3 linked regions of the Homo sapiens genome follow. The protein of the gene in region 1 interacts with the protein of each later gene in a pairwise test. Each region holds a gene or a part of one and is shown in the gene's direction. Other genes may lie near its edges.

Region 1 (7,851 bases):
CAAAGTCACACAGCTAGTTTTTTTTTGTTTTTGTTTTTGTTTTTTTTTTTTGAGACGGAATCTCGCTCTGTCGCCCAGGCTGGAGTGCAGTGGCGCGATCTCTGCTCACTGCAACCTCAGCCTCCCGGGTTCACGCCATTCTCCTGGCTCAGCCTCCGGAGTAGCTGGGACTACAGGCGCCCGCCACCACGCCCGGCTAATTTTTGGTATTTTTAGTAGAGTCAGGGTTTCACCGTGTTAGCCAGGATGGTCTCGATCGCCTGACCTCCTGACCCACCCGCCTCGGCCTCCCAAAGTGCTGGGATTACAGGTGTGAGCCACCGCGCCCGGCCAACAGCTAGTAAGTTAGCAGAGCTGGGATTTAGAACCATATCTAACTTTTCACCACCAATGCTCTGGCAGAAGTAAGCAGGGGCACTGACAGAGCCCTCCGAAACTGCAGAGCCCATTCCAAACCGAGGCCACGCCATTCTGAGGCCTTGGAGATCTGGCATCCCCGCCTTCTTTTCTGTTGAGCATCCTATACCTTCTCCACATGGCTCCAGGGTCCTGTACTGACCTATCCCCCTATGGAAGGATTCATCCCCACAGGGAAAAAGGGACATTCCCACAGTGCCCTTTCTTAGCAAATGTGTGGCCGGTGGTTGCCCAGGGTCAGCCTGACTCCTGGGATGCAGGAGGGAAGCCATAATAACGAAGGCCTCTGGTTTCTGGCCAGAGGGGATCATGGTTGTGGCTTCAGTGACGTTCCCAGAAAATGGCCTCATGATCTCTGGGGCAGGAGTGAGGGAGGATGTGAAGCAGGGAAGCTGCCCCCTCTGAAAGCCATGTGTTCATCTATGAGAGAGAGAGGGGAGGAGGCTGTAGGATGGGAGCAGGGGCATGCATGGACAAGGGCTGTGGACTAGACCCCCAGGCTCTTCCCCCAAGCCTCTCTCCTGGGTCAGGCTGGTGCACTAAGGGATGAGACCCTCCAGTGGACATTGCTGCATCTCCAGGTACCTTCTTGGGTCATTCCTGATGGGTTGGACTGTGGGGTCTTTCAGGATCCTAGCTTCCTGTTCAGTTTCTTTCTTTCTGTCATGTCTTAAGTCTGGTGTCCCCTCAATTTAAGGGAATATGTCCCCGAGGCCTAGAAGAAGAGGGTCCCACCCCATCAGAACTGTCAAGCAGAGAAGCAGGTGTCAGGCCTTCCCATCCCAGGATGACAACATTCTGTTTTGCTGAGGTAGTGACCCAGAACATTCTGTCCTCAGCATCTGTGCACACACCCAGCCAGGTCTAGCTTGGTGCCTGGTGACCATCAGTCAGAGATGTGCCTAGAGCTGCAAGAATCAAGAGGCATTCCCACCCACCCTTCAGGACATTTTTTTTTTTTTTTCTGAGATGGAGTTTTGCTCTTGCTGCCCAGGCTGGAGTGCAATGGTGTGATTTTGGCTCACCGCAACCTCCGCCTCCCAGTTTCAAGTGATTCTCCTGCCTCAGCCTCCCAAGTAGCTGGGATTACAGGCATGTAATCCTGTAATGGCACCACCATGCCCAGCTAATTTTGTATTTTTAGTAAAGACGAGGTTTCTCCACGTTGGTTAGGCTGGTCTCGAACTCCCGATCTCGGGTGATCCACCCGCCTCGGCCTCCTAAAGTGCTGGGATTACAGGCGTGAGCCACTGCGCCCGGCCCCCTTCAGGACATTTAAACTAGCGCCCTGTGGCTGCCACAAACCAGCTGGCTTGAGTCCTAGACCGCCGGTCTTGGGAAGAGGAGTATTCATCTTAGCTGCTACTAAACACCACAGTAGTAGTTAACCGCTATACAGTGCTTTACAGTGAAGCACTTTACATGTAGTAAACACTTATTTCCCGCAACCCGATGAGGTAGGTACTGTCTCTATCACCACATTACAAACGAGAAGATAGAGGAAAACACACTCAAGATTACCCAGCTCAAGGAATTGACAGAGTCTGGTTTGAGAACCTGTACTTTTTTTTTTTTTTCTTTTTTTGAGACAGGTCTCACTCTGTCGCCCAGGCTGGAGAGCAGTGGCACAATCATGGCTCACTACAGCTTCAGGCTGGGCACAGTGGCTCACAAATGTAATTCCAGCACTTTGGGAGGCTGAGGAGGGAGGGTTGCTTGAGCCATAAGTTCTTGAACAGCCCAGGCAATATAATGAGACCCTGTCTTTACAAATATTTTTTTTTTTTTGAGATGGAGTCTCACTCTGTCGCCCCAGGCTGGAGTGCAGTTTCGTGATCTCGGCTCACTGCAACCTCTGCCTCTCGGGTTCAAGCAATTCTCCTGCCTCAGCCTCCCCAGTAGCTGGGACTACAGGCGCGCACCACCACGTCCAGCTAATTTTTGTATTTTTAGTAGAGACAGGGTTTCAACATATTGGCCAGGCTGGTCTGGAACACCTGACCTCGTGATCCACCGACCTTGGCTTCCCAAAGTGCTGGGACTACAGGCGTGAGCCACCGTGCCCGGCCTACAAATAATTTTAAAAAATTAATCTGGGAGTAGTGGTGCACGTCTGTGGTCCCAGTTACTCATAAGGCTGAGGCAGGAGGATTGCTTGAGCCCAGGAGGTTGCCTTGAGCTGTGATTGTGCCACCACACCATGAGACCTTTTTCTGTGAGACTGTCTCCAAAAAATAAAAATAAAAAAAAATCATCACACCCTTGACCTCCCAGGCTCAAGTGATCCTCCCACCTTAGCCTCCTCAGTAGCTGGGACCACAGGTGTGTGTCGCCACACCGGGCTAGACCCTGTCCTCTTAATGACTGCATAGTCCTTGTAACCTCCATTTGCATTCCTAGAGCATAGCATTTGTTCCAAAAATATTTATTGAGTGTCTGTTCTGGGCTTGAACACGAGTAGGAGGATTTAAAAGTGAATAGCATATTGCGTCTGCCCTTGGGGACAGAGACAGAAACATGAAAACATGAAATTGTCCTTCAACACAAGAAGTGCTGTAATAGAGGCATGAATAACGCGGTGGGAAACAAGGAGGGAGGTCATGCTGCCTGAAGCAAATGTCACCGAAGGGCAGACATCAAGAAGGCAGGACATTCCAGGCAGAGGGAATAGCATGTGTGCAGGGATGAAAGCTCACAAGAAAGAGAAACATGAGTCAGGTGCGGTGGCTGATGCCTGTAATCCCAGCACTTTGGGAGGCTGAGGCGGGCAGATTACGAGGTCAGGAGTTCGAGACCAGCCTGGCCAACATGGTGAAACCCCGTCTCTACTACAAAAATACAAAAATTAGCCGGATGTGGTGGTGTGCGCCTGTAATCCCAGCTACTCAGGAGGCTGAGGAAGGAGAATCACTTGAACCCAGGAGGTGGAGGTTGCCGTGAGCTGAGACCGCACCATTTCACTCCAGCCTGGGCAACAGAGAGAGACTCCGTCTCAAAAAAAAAAAAAAAGAAAAGAAAAAGAAAAGATAAAAGAGAAATATGGAGAACATGGAGCACCTGAGTGTCAAAACATCATGGGCAGTAACTGTCAGGGAGATTGCCAGAGAGCTCGGGGTTGGTTGGCGCATCCATCCTGCTTCCTGCTTCCTTCTCTGGCCTCCAAGCTCCCTGAACCTACTCTGTGCAAAGCACTGTGCCAGGTGTTGGCCCAGAGTATGGGACTGCAGCAGTGGCCTGGGTAGCGGAGAAGGGTTTTTTGACCAGCTGGAGACCTTTGTGGCTGGTGTCATTCTGGAGGTGAAGAGAAGGCCGCTGGAAAGAGCTGCCCAGGGAGGACTATGGGAGAACTTGCAGCTCTGGGCCATCTCTGGACATGAACGTTTTGCATACACACAGGGGAGCTCTGTGTGTCTGAGTGGGGGCGGGAGGGGTCCTTCTCTCTCTTTTGGCCCCTGCAGCTTGGCTTCTGGAGCTTTCCTATGTCTTGCTTTAGTGCTAGCCCTTGGAGGGTTGCCAGGGAAACCGCTGGCCAGCTCCGGGAGATAGACGTAGCAGAGGAAAGGAGAGTGGGTGACTCAGCCTGGCTTCCCACAACCGCAACCCCCTCCTCAGCACGTGGAAAGGATCTGGGGGACCCCCTTCCCCTGGATCCTACAGATGACCCTGTTTATTCTTTCTTCTCTAGAGAGAGCAGTCCCTCCCGCAGCTCTGACTGGTGGGAGCCAGCCAGATTTTCCCAGGAAGGGAACCGGCCCCAGGCGCCCCGTCCCCCGTAGGTTCACCCTGGAACTCGGACAGGTGAATTCGGCCTGGGCGAATGTGAATTCCTGCCGTGCCCATGCAGGCGGCAGGAGCCCTGGCTGAGACGCCCTCCCGGGGGCAAACCCAGGATAATTATTGATCGGGGCCCCTGTGGACTTCTGACCTCGGCCTCGGCGGGAGAGGACCCGGAACGCGGGCCTGGGCTCCCAGGGAGAGAGGTGGGCGGGCCGCGGAGGGGGCCAACCAAAACGACCACGACAGTGCGCCCTAGCCCTGCTAGTGGTGGTCGACCCAACCCAAACAAAGCAGCATGTGCTTGCGGTGCGGCGTCGGCTAGGGAGCCGAGCCGGGAAGACACCCCACCGCCGCAGAAAGGGGGTGCGCGCGGCGCCGGCACCGGCACCGCCGAGCGCGCCGCCACCTCGGGTGTGCCGAGGGGGTCCGGGTCCTTCAAGGGCGGTCGCGGAGGGGGCGCGAGGGACAGCGGGCTAGCGAGCGCGCGCCGGGCGGAACCAGGAAGCGGGGCGCGCTCCGGGTTGCCAGCGGCGCGCGTCCCTGGGCCTCCGCGCGTGAGCGGCGCGCGCGCCCCCGCGGGCCCCGGCGGGAGGAGAGTCGGCGGCCGGAGCCGTCACCCCGGGCGGGGACCCAGCGCAGGCAACTCCGCGCGGCGGCCCGGCCGAGGGAGGGAGCGAGCGGGCGGGCGGGCAAGCCAGACAGCTGGGCCGGAGCAGCCGCGGGCGCCCGAGGGGCCGAGCGAGGTAGGAGCTGCGGGGCGAGCCCTGGGCCCGGGGCCGGGGGAGCCAGGCCGGGGAGCCAGCCCGGGCGGGGCCCGCGCTCCAGCCGCTCAGCCGCCCGTCAGGGCCGCGCCGCCGCCATCACTCCCGGGCCGCGGTGGTTGCGCGCTGGGCGAGGGGCGCGCGCGGGGAGAGGGGGTCCGGGTTGGCTGCCGGGGAGGCTGAGGGCAATGCGGGGTGCGCGAGGGGGACTTGCGAACGCCGCGGCGCCGCGGGGGGCGTGCGCTTTAAAGGCTGCGTGCGCGTGTGCTGAGTGGGTGTGTGGGGACCCCGCGCCGACCCCATAGGAGCTCAGGGGGCTGCTGTCAGCCGCCTCACACCTTCACGTTGCAATTCCGAATATCCCCAGCCGTCTTCCTTGCTTTAACTTCTTTCTTTCAAAAGAGGTTCCCGGGACTCCGGGGATGGGATGAGCCTGCGGGGGTGCCTGGTGCGGTGGGGGGTATTAGCAAAGCTTCAAGAAACAGGGCCTTATAAGGAATCAAGACAACAAATACGAACGTTTCGATAAGACTCTGGGGGGCGGGATCCCACATCAGGACCCGCCAGGCCTGGGCTCGTGCGTGTGGCCGTGGGATGCAGTGTGCTTTTTCTTTCTAGTCAGGGATAAAGGGTTAAAAGTGCTCCTGGTGTCGGGGGGTAGATATGGAGAGTCGGAAGGGGAGTTGTATCACAAAAGCTGGTCTGAGGCTAAAGGAATCTGGCAAGATGGTCGGGGTGAACAAAGAGGAAAGAACTCACACGGAGCAAGAGGCGGTTGCAAACACTTGTAGCCAGCAGTGATGGAAAAGCCAAAGAAGAAAACCAAGTGTCAGCTTTTAGAAAGACGGGATTAATGAAAAGCACAAGAATTTTAAAGACTAAAAGAGATACCGATTCTCTCTTTGCCAAAGAGCCAGAGTCAGTTCTTTTCTTCTTGGTCCCTGTGATCCCGCCATACCTCGTATCAAATAAATAGTGCCAAAAGTGGGTCAAAGAATGTTAGAGCTGGAAAGGAACCCAGCGATGATGCCATTCTTTTATTGTACAAATGAGGAAACTGAGGCCCAGATAGGTGGAGTAAGTGGCCTGCTCAGGTGACACGGCTGTTTGTTGAGTATCCAGGGATTGAAACTTCAAGGACTCTGAGATTCGTGCTCTTCCCAAAGCATCGTGCAGTATACAGATCTTTGCCTAGATACAATTCCATACATTTTCTCTGCAGTGTCCTCAGGGAATGCCCTTTGAAAGGGCCAGCGTGACACTGAATATCATACTTGGGCTTATGTCATTTTTTTCAGTCTTCAAGTGGTGTTTATGGTCTGCTTGGATCTTAGGTTTCCAAAGCTGTTGGATAGCCGCCTGGGCCATAATAAGCTTTCAGCTGTTGGGTCTACATTATTTCAAATAATTTTGTTATCTTTCAATTAAGGTAATAGAACTGTGCCTCTCTCCCCAACATTCTATTGTTGTCCATTTGCTTATGTTATATTGCGTTATGTTCATTGCCTGTGAGTTCCTAGGTGAGGATGTATTTTATTGAGTGTGCCTTTCATGTTTTAAAATTTCATTTTGTAACACTGTAAATATTGGAGTGGTTCTGATCACTTCAAATGGGGAGAATCTTATTGATTGATTTTATTTTAAGGCTTTGGGTTGTTTTGTTTATTCATTTGGGTACCAGTTTCCATCTCATGGAAGATCACAGTTGTTAGAATGGACATGGCTAAATAAGAGAAGGGGCTGCTGATTTTAAGAAAAACTTCCTATGTGACAATTTGTGGTATCTGTTACGTTTAATTCAAACAAGTCCACACCTTGGGTCAGGTAAGCGCGTTATCTAGGAGATGACTTGTTTGCTACTGTAGCCTCTGGAAGATGAAATTTCAAGCTCCAGATTGAGACACAGGGAAGGAATGGAGAGGTTTTTTTTTTTTTTTTTTTTTTTTTTGTAAAGCAAACCATCAGAAAAAAAAAGTTGATTTCTATCACCAGTAGTTTGGTTATTGCATAACTTGAAGCTAAACTCTGCACAAAATAATCTTTGCTATATACCCAACTAGGTAAACTATCCCACCTTCTCATCAGTTCTCACCTTTTCGGTGCTTGTATTTTTTGCCCACGGGATATTAATATGGATTGTGTTCAGAAATTTAAGGTGTGTACTTCATAGTATGTATGATTGTAGGAGAAAAATGTGCTATCATCGTTTGGAGTGTTACAACATAAATATTTTGGTCAACACTTCCTATCCTGCTCTGACTTTTCATCTCATCTCCATTTTCTTCCTCTCTTGATTGTTTTTATGTCATTTACATATGTAAAAGCCACATCAAGACTAAAGTTGCCATTTATTACTTTTTGATACTTAAGTCGAGTTTTTTCAAATCATAGTATTGTTAGTATTCAAATTGTCTGTAATTTTTGTTAGGCTTATATATTATGAATCCATTTGTTGTGGTTTATTTGGCTTGTTGTTATGTAGGTAGGTGACACAGGTAGTCTTATTGTAAAAGGAAGACGTTATAGATAGGTAAATAACATGCTCAAGATTAGATGCAGGTTACAGGTGGAATCGAAGGAAGCCTAACTATTTTCGTGCCCTACAAAAATGTCTGTATCTCATAAAGTTATTCACAGATTTCTGGACATTCTATCTGTGACACATTTTTTCCCTTTCTGTTAAGAGTGCAGATTACTGCATTATTCCTACAAAAGGAAGCAAAATAACCCTAGTTTGTATGATTTTTCTGATAATTTGAAACTTATTCGTTTAAAAAGCTATCTGGCAATTCCAGGTTACTGGACTCTTGAGAAGAATATCCTTTTATTTTGATACTATAAAATATCAAAGTATCAAAATACTTTAACTGTGCAACTTAATAAAAATAATGCTTCA
Region 2 (7,181 bases), on another chromosome or scaffold:
TTTTAGTAGAGACGGGGTTTCACTGTCTTAGCCAGGATGGTATCGATCTCCTGACCTCGTGATCTGCCTGCCTTGGCCTCCCAAAGTGCTGGGATTACAAGCGTGAGCCACCACGCCTGGCCCTTTTTTTTTTTTTTTTTTTTTTTTTTTTTTTTTTTTTTGAGACGGAGTCTTGCTCTGTCTCCCAGGCTGGAGTGCAGTGGTATGATCTTGGCTCACTGCAACCTCCACCTCCCGAGATCAAGCAATTCTCCTGCCTCAGTCTACCAAGTAGCTGGGACTACAGGCGTGCACTGGTATGCCTGGCTAATTTTTGTATTTTTAGTAGAGACAGGGTTTCAACATATTGGCCAGGCTGGTCTTGAACTCCTGAATTCAAGTGATTTGCCTGCCTCGGCCTCTCAAAGTGCTGGGATTACAGGCGTGAGCCACCGCACAGGCCAAAGTCTTTTATCTTTTAATGCTACCTCTCTGGCCTCCCCTTCCCTGCCCTTCCCTCCCCTCACCTCCCTTTTTTTTTTTTTTTTTTTTTTTTTTTTTTTTAAAGAGATGATCTTGCTCTGTTGCCCAGGCTGGAGTGCAGTGGCATGATCATAGCTAACTGTAACTTATGAACCCATGGGCTCAAGCAATCCTCTCACCAGAGTAGCTGGTACTACAATTACCTGCCACTATGCCCAACCTTTTTTTTTTTTTTAATTTTCCATAGAAACAGGGTCTCACTATATTGTCCAGGCAACTCCTGGCCTCAAATGATCCTTCTGCCTCAGCCTCCCAAAGTGCTGGAATTTACAGGTGTGAGTGCCTAGCCCTTTTTTTAATTTTTGAGACAGGGCCATGCTCTGTCACCCGGGCTGGAGTGCAGTGGTGCGATCATGGCTCACTGCAGCCTCTACCTCCCAGGTTCAGGTGATGCTCCCACCTTAGCCCCCCGAGTAGCTGGGACTACAGGCACACACCACCACTCCCAGCTGATTTTTGTATTTTTAGTAGAGATGGGGTTTCACCATGTTGGTCAGGCTGGTCTTAAACTCCTGACTTCAAGTGATCCACCCACCTTGGCCTCCCAAAGTGCTGGGATTACAGTCGTGAGGCCCCATGCCCGGCCTTCACTCACATTTTATTCCCATTTTTTTTTGCCTCTAGTCTTCAGATACTGTAAACAATGAACATTGATGTGCATACCAGTTAGATACCAATTAAATCTTTCCAGTATGGGCAAAACATTTTTTTAAGATGTTAATTGGGTTAGTTTGTGTGTAACTTTTTACTTGAGATTTCTTTTCATGACCATTTTCTTCTATGCTTAATATTCAAAATCATTGAAAAAGTTATTTAACATAATTTTATATGTTGTACCTTTTGGAAACAAGTATGATAGTGACATTTATCTTTTCAGATAACCTACTTTCTCTTTTTCCAGCTGCATTCCAGTCCATGATGACAGGAGGTAACATTGGAAAGCAGATAGTTTGCATTTCAGAAGAAATCTCTTTGTAATTGCTGTAAATGTCATCAAGGCAATCATAGATTTCTTTTCCATTTTGCATATTTTCAAAGATATGTTAAAAAATCCTTAGACTATACATAGCTCTTGATTTAAATGTGATCATAGGTGTTATTTTTAGTTGCATAGGGTATTTGATACAATCATTAATGGATCATACACAATAGGTTTTTAAAAATTAATAACTTTTAGTAATTACTTTTATTAATTTAAAATAGAACGCTTGAGAGGCACTTTGTAAAGATTTGTTAAACTGGAAACGTTTTACATGATCTGATACAACCATTAATGAATCATACACAATAGGTTTTTTAAAATTAATATTAATAACTTTTATTAATTTAAAATAGAATGCTTAAAATAAAATAGAATGCTTGAGAGGCACTGAGTAAAGATTTGTTGAACTGGAAATGTTTTACATGATTCTTAAACTGAAACTTGGTGTAAAAATAGAATTGAGATGGCCTTTTTTTCACATTGTAGACTGAAAAGAGACTTAATGGTATGATGTGTACATAGGGACTGGGGGCAGGATTGGGGGTTTCGGAGCTTGTGTAACAGTTTTTGGGATAGGAGACCAGCGGTTTTGGGTTGGGATTAGTATGGGAAGATAAATAACTTAGGTTGGTTAAGTTGACAAGATTTACTCCAGAGGATCATCTCTTTGTATTTGCCAAATAATTTACTGTATAGCCTAAAAACTCCATATATATTGAGAAAAGCATATGTTTATTTTAGGTTAGCAGGCACATACTGTCAAGTTGTAAAGATTGAGAGGGCAAACAGATGTAAACATCACTTGTAGGTGATTAAAAAGATTGACAGCCGGGCCTGATGTCTCAAGCCTGTAATCCTAGCACTTTGGGAGGCAGAGGCGGGCAGATCACTTGAGGTCAGGAGTTCAAGACCAGCCTGGCCAACACGGTGAAACCCCATCTCTCTAAAAATACAAAAATTAGCTGGGCGTGGTGGCACACGCCTGTAATCCCAGCTACTCAGGAGGCTGAGGCTGGAGAATCATTTGAACCTGGGAGGGGGAGGTTGCCGTGAGCTGAGCTTGCACCATTGCACTCCAGCCTGGGCGACAAGAGTGAAATTCCATCTCAAAAAACAAAAACAGATTGACAACAAAGACAGTTTCAGAAAATGACAGGACTGGGCAAATTAACAAATGTTTGTAAACATGAATGTTCAGGAACTACTGATGTACCTCAAAAGTTTGTTTTATTAATTGTACTCAACCCTCGCAGAACAGTAAAACTGAAGATTATTGTTTCTGAATGTTTTGGCTTATGATTGTCTACACACTGCCAATATACTTTTGTATGCAACATTTGTAATAAGTAGATTCAAACTGTGTTGGTAATCAGCCTCCCCAGTTTTCGTGAGTGGCCCTTTTTTGTTACTTTTCCTGGACCATTTCATCGCCTGAGGGGGTTTCACTTTTCTCTGTATGTTGCTAACTCCCAAATCTCCATCTGTATTTCTGACCTCTTTCTTGAGCACTGGACCTTTACCTCCAAGTAAATATCCTCAACTCTGGATTGCATCTTATACTCTGCTTTTTTCTTTTCTTTTCTTTTTTGAGATGGAGTCTTGCTCAGTCGCCCGGCGTGCAGCGGCACGATCTCGGCTCACTGCAACCTCCGCCTCCCGGGTTCAAGCGATTCTCCTGCCTCAGCCTCCCGAGTAGCTAGGATTACAGGCGCGTGCCACCACGCCCGGCTAATTTTTGTGTTTTTAGTAGAGACGGGTTTTCACGGCGTTACCCAGGATGGTCTCGATCTCCTGACCTCGTGATCCGCCCACCTTAGCCTCCCAAAGTGCTGGGATTAAAGGCGTGAGCCACGGAGTCCGGCCTACTCTGCTTTTCTAAAGTGGAATTATCTTCCTCTGAAATGTTTCTCCTTTATTTTAAATCACCATTAGTAATTTGTGTACCCAAACCTGTCATCAAGGCTTATCTTTAACCTTGAAAATGCCTTTTTAAAGAGAACTCCTTTAATTCCCACGGTTGAGTCTCTCATTCTTCCGCACGCAAATATTTTAAAATAAGTAATTTCAAGAAGTCAGTCAAACTCACAAAGCTTTAACAAGGTGGCATCCAGCTTGGAAGTCAAGTGTTCAAGCCCGCAGTCGGGACATCCAAGAGCTCTTTACATCCTAATTACAACACGGAACCCAGACTCACTGCATACCCCGTCCCGTATATAATGCAAAACTTGATTCTGCAAGTTCCTTTCTCGGGCGGTGAAACTTCGAAGGTCCTCTCCATGGAGACCTTTGATAAATGTTTAAGCAGTGATCTTTTCTTTCGCGTTTGCCTCCATTGCAACGCCTCCGCTGATGGGAAAAACTACTCCCTCCGCTACTGCGGGGTGGCAGTGACGTCAACGAATTAGCTGACCTGTTTTTTCGGGCTTCGCGGACATAGGAGTCCCGAAGGCCGAGAGTGAGTGAGTGAGTGGGAGCGGGGCGGCTGCGGCTCCTCCTGTCCGGGGCGGAGCCCTGCGTCGCGGGCCTGGGGAGGCCCCGCCAGCACCCTTGACGTCTGGGTCCCGAGCAGTGCGGCAGCCACACGACACTGAGGCGAGCGAGTGGGTGTGTGCGTGGGGGGTCAGCCAAACTTCCTGTCCCGCGCTCGAGCTGCTTCCGGCGGGAGCCGGAAGACGCTGTGTGTGGACGGAATTCGGGACCGACTGACGGCCGGCCGGCTTCCCGGAACTGGAAGGTGAGCTCCGAGGTGGGCCTGGCCACCCCTCCTCGGTTAGGTAGTACCCGAGAGGGCGGGGGCCAGTACCGGCTACTTGGGGCCTGGGGCCGAGTTCGCCCCGAGAGAGGAAACCGCCCTCCTTGGGCATCCCTCCTGGATCTGGCGGGCCCGGGAGCGGCCAGTCTGAAGCCCTGCGGCTTTGGCCCTTCCCCTCGCGGGTTTTTAGGGGCGATGTTCTTGCTCCTTTGCTTGGTTTTGGGGGTAGGGATATAGGAACAGACTGTCCTGAGAAAGCCAGAGTCAGCGAGTCCCCGGGGCGGGGGCTCTTGGACTGCACCCGCAGCCGGGGCCTGCCTACGGACCTTGGGGCCTTATTTCTGAGGCCTTTGTGGTGTGGGGTAGAGGATGCCAGGAGGCCTTGCCCTGAATGTTTCAGTCCAGAGCTACCCTCTCCTTTCATACCACTTACTTTCTGGGTTTGGAAAAGGGACAGCTGCCTACTCGGCTGGGCTGGGTCGCCCGTTTCTCCTTTGCCTGTCAGTTCGGGGGGCAGGAGTGTGTGGATTGTTTACGGCCTTCATACATTTCGTGTCGAATTTATTTTCTGAAGTTTCTCAAGATAATCCAATTTATTAAAGTTTATCCCACTTGATCATGAGGCTCAGAAATGCATTTAGGCACCATTTGGAAGTTAAATATTATTAACTTGGGACTTAAGAATTAGTACTTAGGTTGGAACGAAGGTCAACGCAGCATATTTGCAATAAATAAAAAACATTTGGAAATAAAGTCGGGCATTTTGTTAGGGAGTGAGAAATTGCACTTGGTTTTTTCTTAGTGTGGTGCAGAGTAAAAGACAACTAAAGTAGCAGTCAGAAGTTTTAAGTTCTAGTTTTTTACGTTTTGCATCTAAGTAGATGTCTAATTTTTGGCAAGTTGCTGAATCTCTAGCTCTGGGGAGTTTTTCTGTAAACGAAGGGGTTTACCTTTAGGGCTATGACAATTTTTCCGAGGCACTGAACTTTGAGTAGAAGTGACATAAGCATTTCTTTGTTTTGGAAAGATAACTTGAATGGCTGCATAAAGGATGTATTGGAAAGAGGAATTTTAAACGCGGGGTGACCAGTTAGAGGCCTGTTTTAATAGTATAGTAGAAAGTTACTGAGAGACCTAAACAGGGCATTACAGTAGGGAACAGAGAACATTCTGGGAACAGAGAATCACGGGAATTATTTAAAAATGGAGAATGAGAGAGATTTAAAGACCTAGAATTTGCAGCTGAGTGGGAGGAAGATTGGGCGATCATTGAAATAGGTAATACAAGAAGAACAGGTTTGGTAAGGAAGATAATAATCTGGATTTTGGACATTGTTAGGTTTGAGATGCTGTTGGATATACATGTGGAGATACCTAGCAAGCAGTTAGAAATGAAGGTTTGGAGTTCAGAAGAGATGACTAGAGAAAAATGTAGGTATCATTTGTAGTGTCATTCATTCATTATACAAATATTTAGTACCTACCAGTTGCTTACTGGGAAGCTTGTATGGAAGCCCTTTAAGCTCATAGTAAACACATTAGAAGTGGGAAGTGACCGTTAATGGGCACAGGGTTTCCTTGTGAGGTGATGAAATATTGTAAAATTGATCGTGGTTCTGCTTGTACAACTCTGAATGAACTAAAGATATTTTAATTGTACTCTTTAAATGAGTCAATAGTATGGTATGTGAACGATATCTTAGTGAAACTAATTTTTAAAAAAGATTTACATTGCAGTTTTGGAAATCTGTTGAGTAAGGAATTGGGAATAGGAATGTTTAATTGTGTATTTGCCGTTACACCTATAGCTAATGTACATAGTACGTTGCTCTGTTAAAGATGAGATCCCCACAGTACACTTGATAAGATACTGAGTGCTCTAGTACAAATTCTTTTGAGTTCAGTTGCATATCTTAATGCATCCTGCTATTTTTTATTTTATTCATACCGTACACATACAAATCATAAACTTGGACACAAAAATTGTATGGTAGTACTTAGTTATAATATGAATACCCAGTGCTTGAGAAAATGCTCGTGTTAATTTTTAAAGATTATTGAAGTGAAAACACTGAAATAAAAAGATGTCATAGATAACATAAAAAGGACAGTAAATAGTTGTCTGGTTCCTCAGAGATTTTACAATCCTGGAATCTCAAAGTTGGAGGAACCTTAAGGATGACTTAAACAACAAACATCTGATAATTTCTTGGCTTGTTAAGACAAGCTGGAATTGGGGAAGAGGAATTCTTGTTTTTTTTGAGACAGCCTCCATTTGTTACCCAGGCTGGAGTGCAGTGGCGTGATCACTGTTCAGTGCAGCCTCGATCTCCTGGGCTAAAGCAATCCTCCTACTCAGCCTCCCTAGTAGCTAGGACCACAGGCATGTGCCACCATGTGATGCTAATTGAAAAATTTTTTTTTGTAGAAATAGAGTCTCACTGGCTGAGATCGCGCCACTGCACTCCAGCCTGCGTGACAGAGCGAGACTCAGTCTCAAAAAAAAAAAAAAAAAAAAAAGAAATAGGGTCTCACTGTGTTGCCTAGGCTGAGAAAAGGAATTCTTAGGCCATGGAGATTCAGGGTCAAACCTAGAGAGATGTAATCACTATTCACGCCAATGATTTCTGCATACTTCTGGTGTGGGTGGGAGTCCTGGCTTTGCAACTTAATAACTTGGTAATTAAGTAATATACTGAGCCTTGGTTCCTTCCTCTCTAAATAGAGGGATGGATAAACCATATGAAACTGTTGCAGTGCTTGAATAAGAAAAATATGTGTGGAAGAAAAGTCAGGGATTTATGATACTTTATGTGGGAAACTTGGAAGGAGCATTTCCATTTATATCTTGTAAATGGTTAGTTTTTTTTTTTTTTTTCTCGACACAGAGTCTTGCTCTGTCGCCCGGGCTGGAGTACAGTGGAG
Region 3 (7,736 bases), on another chromosome or scaffold:
GCAAATCTTAACATGGCATATTCTAGGTTCTGCACTTTTTATAGTTGACCTTTCAATAGTGTTGTGGCTACTGGTGCCAATTCACCCCTACAGAGTTGAAAATCTGAATATAACTTTTGACTCCCTGAAAACTTAACTACTTATAGCCTGCTGTTGACCTGAAGACTTAGCAATAACATAAACAGCCGATTAACAGGCATTTTGTATGTTACAAGTATTACATACTGTATTTCTTTCTTTCTTACTTTATTATTATTATTATTTTGAGATAGAGTCTTACTGCATCACCTAGGCTGGAGTGCGCTAGTGGCATGATCTTGGCTCACTGCAACCTCCGCCTGTTAGGTTCAAGTAATTCTCATGCCTCAGCCCTCCAGAGTAGCTGGAATTACAAGCACACCACGCCTGGCTAATTTTTGTATTTTTAGTAAATATGGGGTTTTGTAATGTTGGCCAGGCTGGTCTCGAACTCCTGACCTCAAGTGATCCGCCTCCCTCTGTCTTGCAAAGTGCTGGGATTACAGGAGTGAACCACTGTGCCCAGCCTCTACACACTACAGTCTTAGAATAAAGCAAGTTAGAGAAGAGAAAATGTTATTTAAAAAATCACAGCTGGGCATGGTGTCATGTGGCTGTAATCCCAGCTCCCTGGGAGGCTGAGGCAGGAGGATCACCCGAGATCAGGAGGTAGAGGCTGCAGTGAGCCCTGATGGTGCCACTGCACTCCAGTCTGGGCAGCAGAGTGAAACCCTGTCTCCAAAAAGAAGAAAAAAAGAAAAAGAAAAAGAAAATCACAAGGAAGAGAAAATACATTTACAGTTACAGAACGCTACAATATTTATCAATGCCATAAATTTGTTTACAAGATGAATTGTCTGTCTGAAGCAGACAACCGCAGCTGTAGAGCTCCATTTATGTTACGTAGCAAGCAATTCAACTTTTTCTTGTCCTGTCCTGACTTTTCTCTGCTTCTCGGGAGCATTTCCAGCATCACTAGTGGCACTTTACATGGGTCTCAGGATGTTATTCAATGTTTGCGGTATTGCACTAAACACAGTGAAAAATACGCGGGAACCGCCAAGAGATCCCTTTTTACCGGGGCACAAATTCCTGGAGAGGTGAACTGCCCACAGGGAGATAATTAATGTAACATGGCATTTAAAGCGGATACTTGCAACACTTGCACTCACTCCAGTAGCAACAGGAGGTGGCTATGAAATTGTTACAATAACACAATATATTCTATAGTTAATTTTATGCAGTTATGATTGAATGCTGCATCTTTACATTTATTTACATTTCTCTTGACTTGGAATAACACCATGTATGGTTTGTAAGTGTGTGTGTACGTTTTAATACATTTTAACTTTTTGTAACAGATTTGTGTATATTTTATGTTAGCAAATTATAAAATAGGGCTGGACATGGTGGCTTATACCTGTAATCTCGGCACTGTGGGAGGTAGAGGCAGGAGGATCACTTGAGTTCAGGAGTTAGAGACCAGCCTGGGCAACATGGTGAGACCTCGTCTCTATAAAAAGTAAAAAAATTAGCCGGGCGTGTTGGTGCTTGCCAGGAAGATCGCTTGAACCCAGGAGTTGGAGGTTACAGTGAGCCATGATTGGGCCACTGCTCTCCAGCCTGGGCAACAGAGCAAGACCCTGTCTCTAAAAGAAAATAATAACAAAAATAATAAAACAGACTAGTATCTACATATATTTTATGCATTCATGACATACCTAATTTTTTTTTAATATTTCTTGGCTACCAAGTTCATCTGCAAGTCTTTTCAAACTATTGCAAATCTCTAAAAATGTTTCCAATATATTTATTGAAAAACATTCTGTTTAAAGATGACCTCACTTTGGGAGGCTGATCAGATCAGCTGAGGTCAGGAGTTCGATACCAGCCTGGCCAACATGGTAAAATCCCGTCTGTACTAAAAATACAAAAATTAACCGGGTGAGGTGGCGTGTGCCTGTAGTCCCAGATACTTGGGAAGCTGAGGCAGGAGAATAGCTTGAACCCTGGAGGTGGAGATTGCAGTGAGCTGAGATTGCTCCACTGCACTCCAGCCAGGGTGACAGAGCGAGACTCTGCCTCAAAAAAAAAAAAAAAAAAGATGTGCACGGTTCAAACTCATGTTCAAGGGCCCACTGCAGTTCTCACCCATGGCTTCACTTTCTCCTCTTTCTTTTCTGCAGCTACAGTGAATGCCTGGTTCAGTTGCAAGAATGCCTTGCCCACTCTCCTCTGGGCCTTTGCTCATGCCTTCCCCCACCTGAAACACATCCCTATGGCTTCCCTAGGATGGCTCCTCTTCATTTTCAGACTTAAGCTCAAAATCACATCCTCAGTCAGGTGCAGTGGCTCACGCGTCTGTAATCCCAGCAATTAGGGAGACCGAGACAGGCAGATCTCTTGAGGTCAGGAGTTCAAGACCAGCCTGTCCAATATGGTGAAACCCTGCCTCTACTAAAAATACAAAAATTAGGCAGGCGTGGTGGCATGCACCTGTAATCCCAGCTACTCTGGAGGCTGAGGCAGGAGAATTGCTTGAACCTGGGAGGCGGAGGTTGCAGTGAGCCAAGATCGTGCCACTGCACTCCAGCCTGGGCAACAGAGTAAGATCCATCAAAAAACAAACAAACAAAAAACCCCATGTCCTCAGCAAACCCCTCCCTATGCACCTCCCATTTCCCTCAGCTCATTACACACTCAATTATTTTAAGGGCTCTCTCCCTGGCTCAGTTGTGAACTCCATAAGGAAATGGGTCATGTTTATTTTGCTCACTGAAAAATCCCCTATTACTTATTGCTTGTTGATTCTCCCACTCAACAAATATTTATTAAGCAACAGATTTGTCAGGCACTGGGTTTAAGCAGTGAAACAAGACCGAAAAGATTTCCGCCTTCACGGGAAGGGGAGAAGACACAGAAAACGAATAAGAATTTCAAGGCCAATCATGGTGGCGCATGCCTGTAATCCTAGCACCTTGGGAGGCCAAGGCAGGAGGATTGCTTGAGGCCAGGAGTTCAAGGCTGCAGTAAGCTAGGATTGCACCACTGCATTCCTGCCTGGGTGACAGCAAGATTCTGTCAAAAGGAAAAAAAAAGAAAGAAAAGAAAAAAAAAAAACAAACAATTGCAGGTAGTGGGGTAAACATGCTATGAAAATGAGAGAGAAGGGGCCAGGCGCAGTGGCTCAGGCCTGTAATCCCAGCACTTTGGGAGGCCAAGGCCGGTGGATCACCTGAGGTCAGGAGTTTGAGACCGGCCAGGCCAACATGGTGAAATCCTGTCTCTACTAAAAATACAGAAAATTAGCTGGGTGTGCTGGCGCATGCCTGTAATCCAAGTTACTTGGGAGGTTGAGGCAGGAGAATCACTTGAACCCAGGCAGGTGATGTTGCAGTGAACTGAGATCTGGCCATTGCACTCCAGCCTGGGCAACAGAGAAAAACTCCATCTAAAAAAAAAAAAAAAAAAAAAAAAAAAAAAAAAAAAAAAAAAACAGAGAGAGAGAGAGAGAGAAGGAAACGGAACTGGGGGGAGGATTTGCAAAAATATGGTTAGGGATGGCACTTCAGAGATGAAGCCATCCTGGAGTGTTACGGGCAAGGGAAATGCTGGGGCAAAGGCCCAGAGGCAGGAATAGGTTTGGCCTGTTGCATGAACAGTGGGTCCAGCTCCTAGCAAACTGTTTATTGAATGAAAGAAGAATGAATGCCTTGGGTCTAGGGTTGTGCTGGGCGCTTTCTTAAGTTTTCTTTCCCGGGTACCTCCCCAGAACTGGCATGCAGGTATTATTAAACCCATTACACAAGTGAAACTGGCCCAGAGACAGAAAAGTCCCTGGTCCAAGACCACACAGGAGTGAGGGGTGGAGGAACCCTCCTCCCATTGAGTTCTGGCTTTCCTATACTGAAAGCCCCTTCCTCTCCTGCAGTAAGGTAGGTGGAACCGCTGTCCCGCCTTGTTGGTGAATGTCGTTGCTAGACTTCAGACACATACAGGCTGGTCTGCTGAAAATCAGAGATGTCCACCTGCGCCCTATTCGAGGTCTCCGGCGTCTTCTTTGGCGTCGTCTTTGCCCTTTCAGAAGCGTCTGCACATTTTTCCAGGTGTCATTTCTCCAACTTGAACACAGGGAGCGCACTGGGCACGCGGGCACGTGGCTGTCCCCAGGGGCCTGGCTTGGGTCTCGCCCCTGGGCCGGGGCGCACTCGCGGGCGGGACATCTGGGGGCGCCCACGCGCTCTGGGACGAGTGTCGCTGGCCAGGCCCGGACTGAGGAAAGGCGAGTGAGACACTACTCGCCTGGGGTGCAAAATTTAAGGGAGTGAAAAAAAAAAAAAAAGAAAGAAACCAAAACCACCTCGAGTCACCAAAATAAACATTTTAATGCAGTATTTTTTAAAAAATCAACAGGAATCCTCCAAAGCCCACTATGAACAAAATAGCAAAATGGTAGAGAAAGGATCTGTGCCGCTGCGTCGGGCCTGTGGGGCGCCTCCGGGGGTCTGAAACTGGAGGAGACTCGGGGCTGTAGGGCGCGCGGATCTGGGGCGCGCCCTCGGTCCCGGCGCGCCCAGGGCCTCCCGCGCGGGGCCCGGCACAGGGAGGCGGGGAGGCGGGCGGGGCGGGGCGGGGCCGGGCGGCACCTCCCTCCCCTGCAAGCTTTCCCTCCCTCTCCTGGGCCTCTCCCGGGCGCAGAGTCCCTTCCTAGGCCAGATCCGCGCCGCCTTTTCCCGCGGCCCGCACGGGGCCCAGCTGACGGGCCGCGTTGTTTACGGGCCCGAGCAGCCCTCTCTCCCGCCGCCCGCCCGCCACCCGCCAGCCCAGGTGCCCGCCCGCCAGTCAGCTAGTCCGTCGGTCCGCGCGTCCCTCTGTCCCGGAGCCCGCAGATCGCGACCCAGAGCGCGCGGGGCCGAGAGCCGAGAGACAGTCCCGGGCGCAGCGCGGAGCTCCGGGCCCCGAGATCCTGGGACGGGGCCCGGGCCGCAGCGGCCGGGGGGTCGGGGCCACCACCGCAAGGGCCTCCGCTCAGTATTTGTAGCTGGCGAAGCCGCGCGCGCCCTTCCCGGGGCTGCCTCTGGGCCCTCCCCGGCAGGGGGGCTGCGGCCCGCGGGTCGCGGGCGTGGAAGAGAAGGACGCGCGGCCCCCAGCGCCTCTTGGGTGGCCGCCTCGGAGCATGACCCCCGCGGGCCAGCGCCGCGCGCTCTGATCCGAGGAGACCCCGCGCTCCCGCAGCCATGGCCACCGGGGGCCGGCGGGGGGCGGCGGCCGCGCCGCTGCTGGTGGCGGTGGCCGCGCTGCTACTGGGCGCCGCGGGCCACCTGTACCCCGGAGAGGGTGAGTCTGGGGGCGCGGGCGTGGGCGGGGAGCGCCGCGATGGGGAGAGGACCCCACCCAAGCCAAAATCGAGCCCCCGCTTGTGGACTGAGAACCCTCCCCAGGGGCGGGGGGCGGTGGCCAGGACGGTAGCTCCTGCATCGCGTAGGGGGAGCGGGAAGCCTCTGACCTTGGCCTTTGCCCGCCCGGGCTCGCGCCTCCGCGCCCTGCGTGCCCGACCTGAGCCCGAGGAACCTTGCCCCGGTGCCCGCCCCGCCGCGGGCTCCTCTCTGGAGCGCGCCTCCGACCCGTGCCCCGGCCCCTCCGAGCCCAAGTCGCTCCGGAGACACGACACGCGTCATCTTTGGGTCGCGGCCGGGAAGTGGGGTCACTGGGTCTGGACAGCCCCGAACAGCCAAGTCCCCCGAGCGCATATGGTGTAGGTAGAGCCAAGCGCCCTGAGTGCCTCACCGGTGGGTGACGCTGCCTGGGGTCAGGGACTGCAGAGCCCCCCTCTACCCAACTACCTTGGATCTAGGCCCGTGGCCACCCCGGACTCTAGGTCCATGTTTACCCTTTTGGGTTCTGTTTCCAGATGTCCGGAGGCAAATTCTAAAGCCTTAGCAACAGCAGCAATTGTAGCAGAAGTAGTGGCGGTTTTTTACCCTATTTATTGTAATTGGTATCACCGCACGCCACAGCCTAGTCTATCTTATCTCTCTGGACTGTCACAGTGGCCCCCGGAGGCAGATACAGTTATGCACCCATTTCACAGAGGAGTAAACTGAGGCTCATGTAGGACGCATAACTCCCTTGCCCTAAAGTCAGTGCCAGAGCCAGGACTTGAGCCTCTGTGTGTCCCGTTCTGCCCAAGAATCTGGACTACTGTCCCTTGTCTGCTGTCTCCTTGACCCCTCCTCTCCCCTCAGCCCTGCGCTTCATGAAGGAGCCTTTGACCTTGAGTGAGCCTTTCGTTCCCCCTGACCCCATGGGCCCCTCTCCCACGTGTGGGCAGCATCTTCCTTGGGCTTGACAATAGGCACCTTTGGGGTTGTAAGATGAAGATGGCGCAATCATTTAAGGAATATAGCCTGGGTTTCCCACTGTGGGGTCTGAGGCCCTGCTTTAAAAATATCTGTTGGGTTACTGTTTCAGATTTCTCCATAAAAGGAAATCAGTCGTGATGAGGAAGGGGTCAGGGAGGGAAGGAATTGAAGCTCTTAAATGTATTGATGGGGAAACGGGTGCATGTAAAATCAGGTGCTAGAGTGGACCAACCGGGTTTGCTGAGTCGACTCTGTCAATCACATAATGTCTAAAAGCCCCGGGCCCACCCCCCCCCAGCCCCGCCCCCAGGTGCCTGGGAGACAGTAGGTGCTCAATGAAGGGTGGCGGTTAGTTGGAGTTCTTGTTAAGAAAATCTGGCCAGCTGCGGTGGCTCAAGCCTGTAATCTCAGCATTTTGGGAGGCTGAGGCGGGCGGATCACGAGGTCAGGAGATGGAGACCATCCTGGCCAACATGGTGAAACTCCCTTCTCTGCTCAAAATACAAAAATTACCTGGGTTTGGTGGCGTTCGCCTGTAGTCCCAGCTACTTGGGAGGCTGAGGCGGGACAATTGCTTGAACCCGGGAGGAGGAGGTTGCTGTGAGCTCAGATGGCACCACTGCACTCCAGCCTGGCCAAAGAGCGAGACTTTGTCTCAAAAAAATAAAAAAAAAGGCGGGGCGTGGTGGCTCACGCTTGTAATCCCAGCACTTTGGGAGGCCGAGGCGGGTGGATCACCAGTTCAGGAGATCACGACCATCCTGGCTAACACGGTAAAACCCTGTCTCTACTGAAAAATAGAAAAAATTAGCCGGGCGTGGTGGCGGGCGCCTGTAGTCCCAGCTATTCCGGAGGCTGAGGCAGGAGAATGGCGTAAACCCGGGAGGCGGAGCTTGCAGTGAGCCAAGATCGTGCCACTGGGCGACAGAGCGAGACTCTGTCTCAAAAATAAATAAATAAATAAAAAGAAAATCCAAGATGAGTGGTTTCGAACTATGCCAGATTCTATGTGTGCGTGTGTGTGGTTCCCTGTTCTTCTGTTCCTTGTAGCTTTGGTAATTAATTGTGGATCTGTGCCTGGGCTTTCAGGGTCAGTAAATGGATTTACCATTTCTTTGCACATTTATGGCTTCCATATGGGCAGGGGTTTATGGTTTGTTGTTGTTCACCGTTGCATTTCTAGAGCCCAGAACGATGCCTGGCACATAGTAGGTGTTCAGTAAATATTTGTTCTGCAGTGGGGCACAAGTGGTGGAGTTCCTGGGTGTACTGGGCTCCTTTATCATCTTAAGGAGTTCCTTATTCTCTGCATAATACCTTCCTAAGAATTAGAAGAGCAAGCTCTCAGCAGGTGCT

The links.
Region 2: the proteins of STAT5B (region 1) and ZNF410 interact in binary tests that used the Homo sapiens proteins (3 or more experiments, as listed by UniProt).
Region 3: the proteins of STAT5B (region 1) and INSR interact in a two-hybrid assay, tested with the Homo sapiens proteins (one study listed by IntAct).

What each region holds. Positions count from the first base shown.
Region 1 is NC_000017.11:42,273,334-42,281,184, reverse strand, and holds the start of STAT5B (signal transducer and activator of transcription 5B), read left to right. Parts: upstream 1-4,793; 5' UTR 4,794-4,937; intron 4,938-5,551; exon of another isoform or gene 5,552-7,851. UniProt on the Homo sapiens protein: Carries out a dual function: signal transduction and activation of transcription. Mediates cellular responses to the cytokine KITLG/SCF and other growth factors. Binds to the GAS element and activates PRL-induced transcription.
Region 2 is NC_000014.9:73,882,678-73,889,858, forward strand, and holds the start of ZNF410 (zinc finger protein 410), read left to right. Parts: upstream 1-4,181; 5' UTR 4,182-4,238; intron 4,239-7,181. Other genes in the region: PTGR2 (prostaglandin reductase 2), read left to right, coding at 1,424-1,500. UniProt on the Homo sapiens protein: Transcription factor that binds to the sequence motif 5'-CATCCCATAATA-3', and is specifically required to silence expression of fetal hemoglobin in adult erythroid cells.
Region 3 is NC_000019.10:7,291,411-7,299,146, reverse strand, and holds the start of INSR (insulin receptor isoform Long preproprotein), read left to right. Parts: upstream 1-4,732; 5' UTR 4,733-5,255; coding exon 5,256-5,355; intron 5,356-7,736. UniProt on the Homo sapiens protein: Receptor tyrosine kinase which mediates the pleiotropic actions of insulin.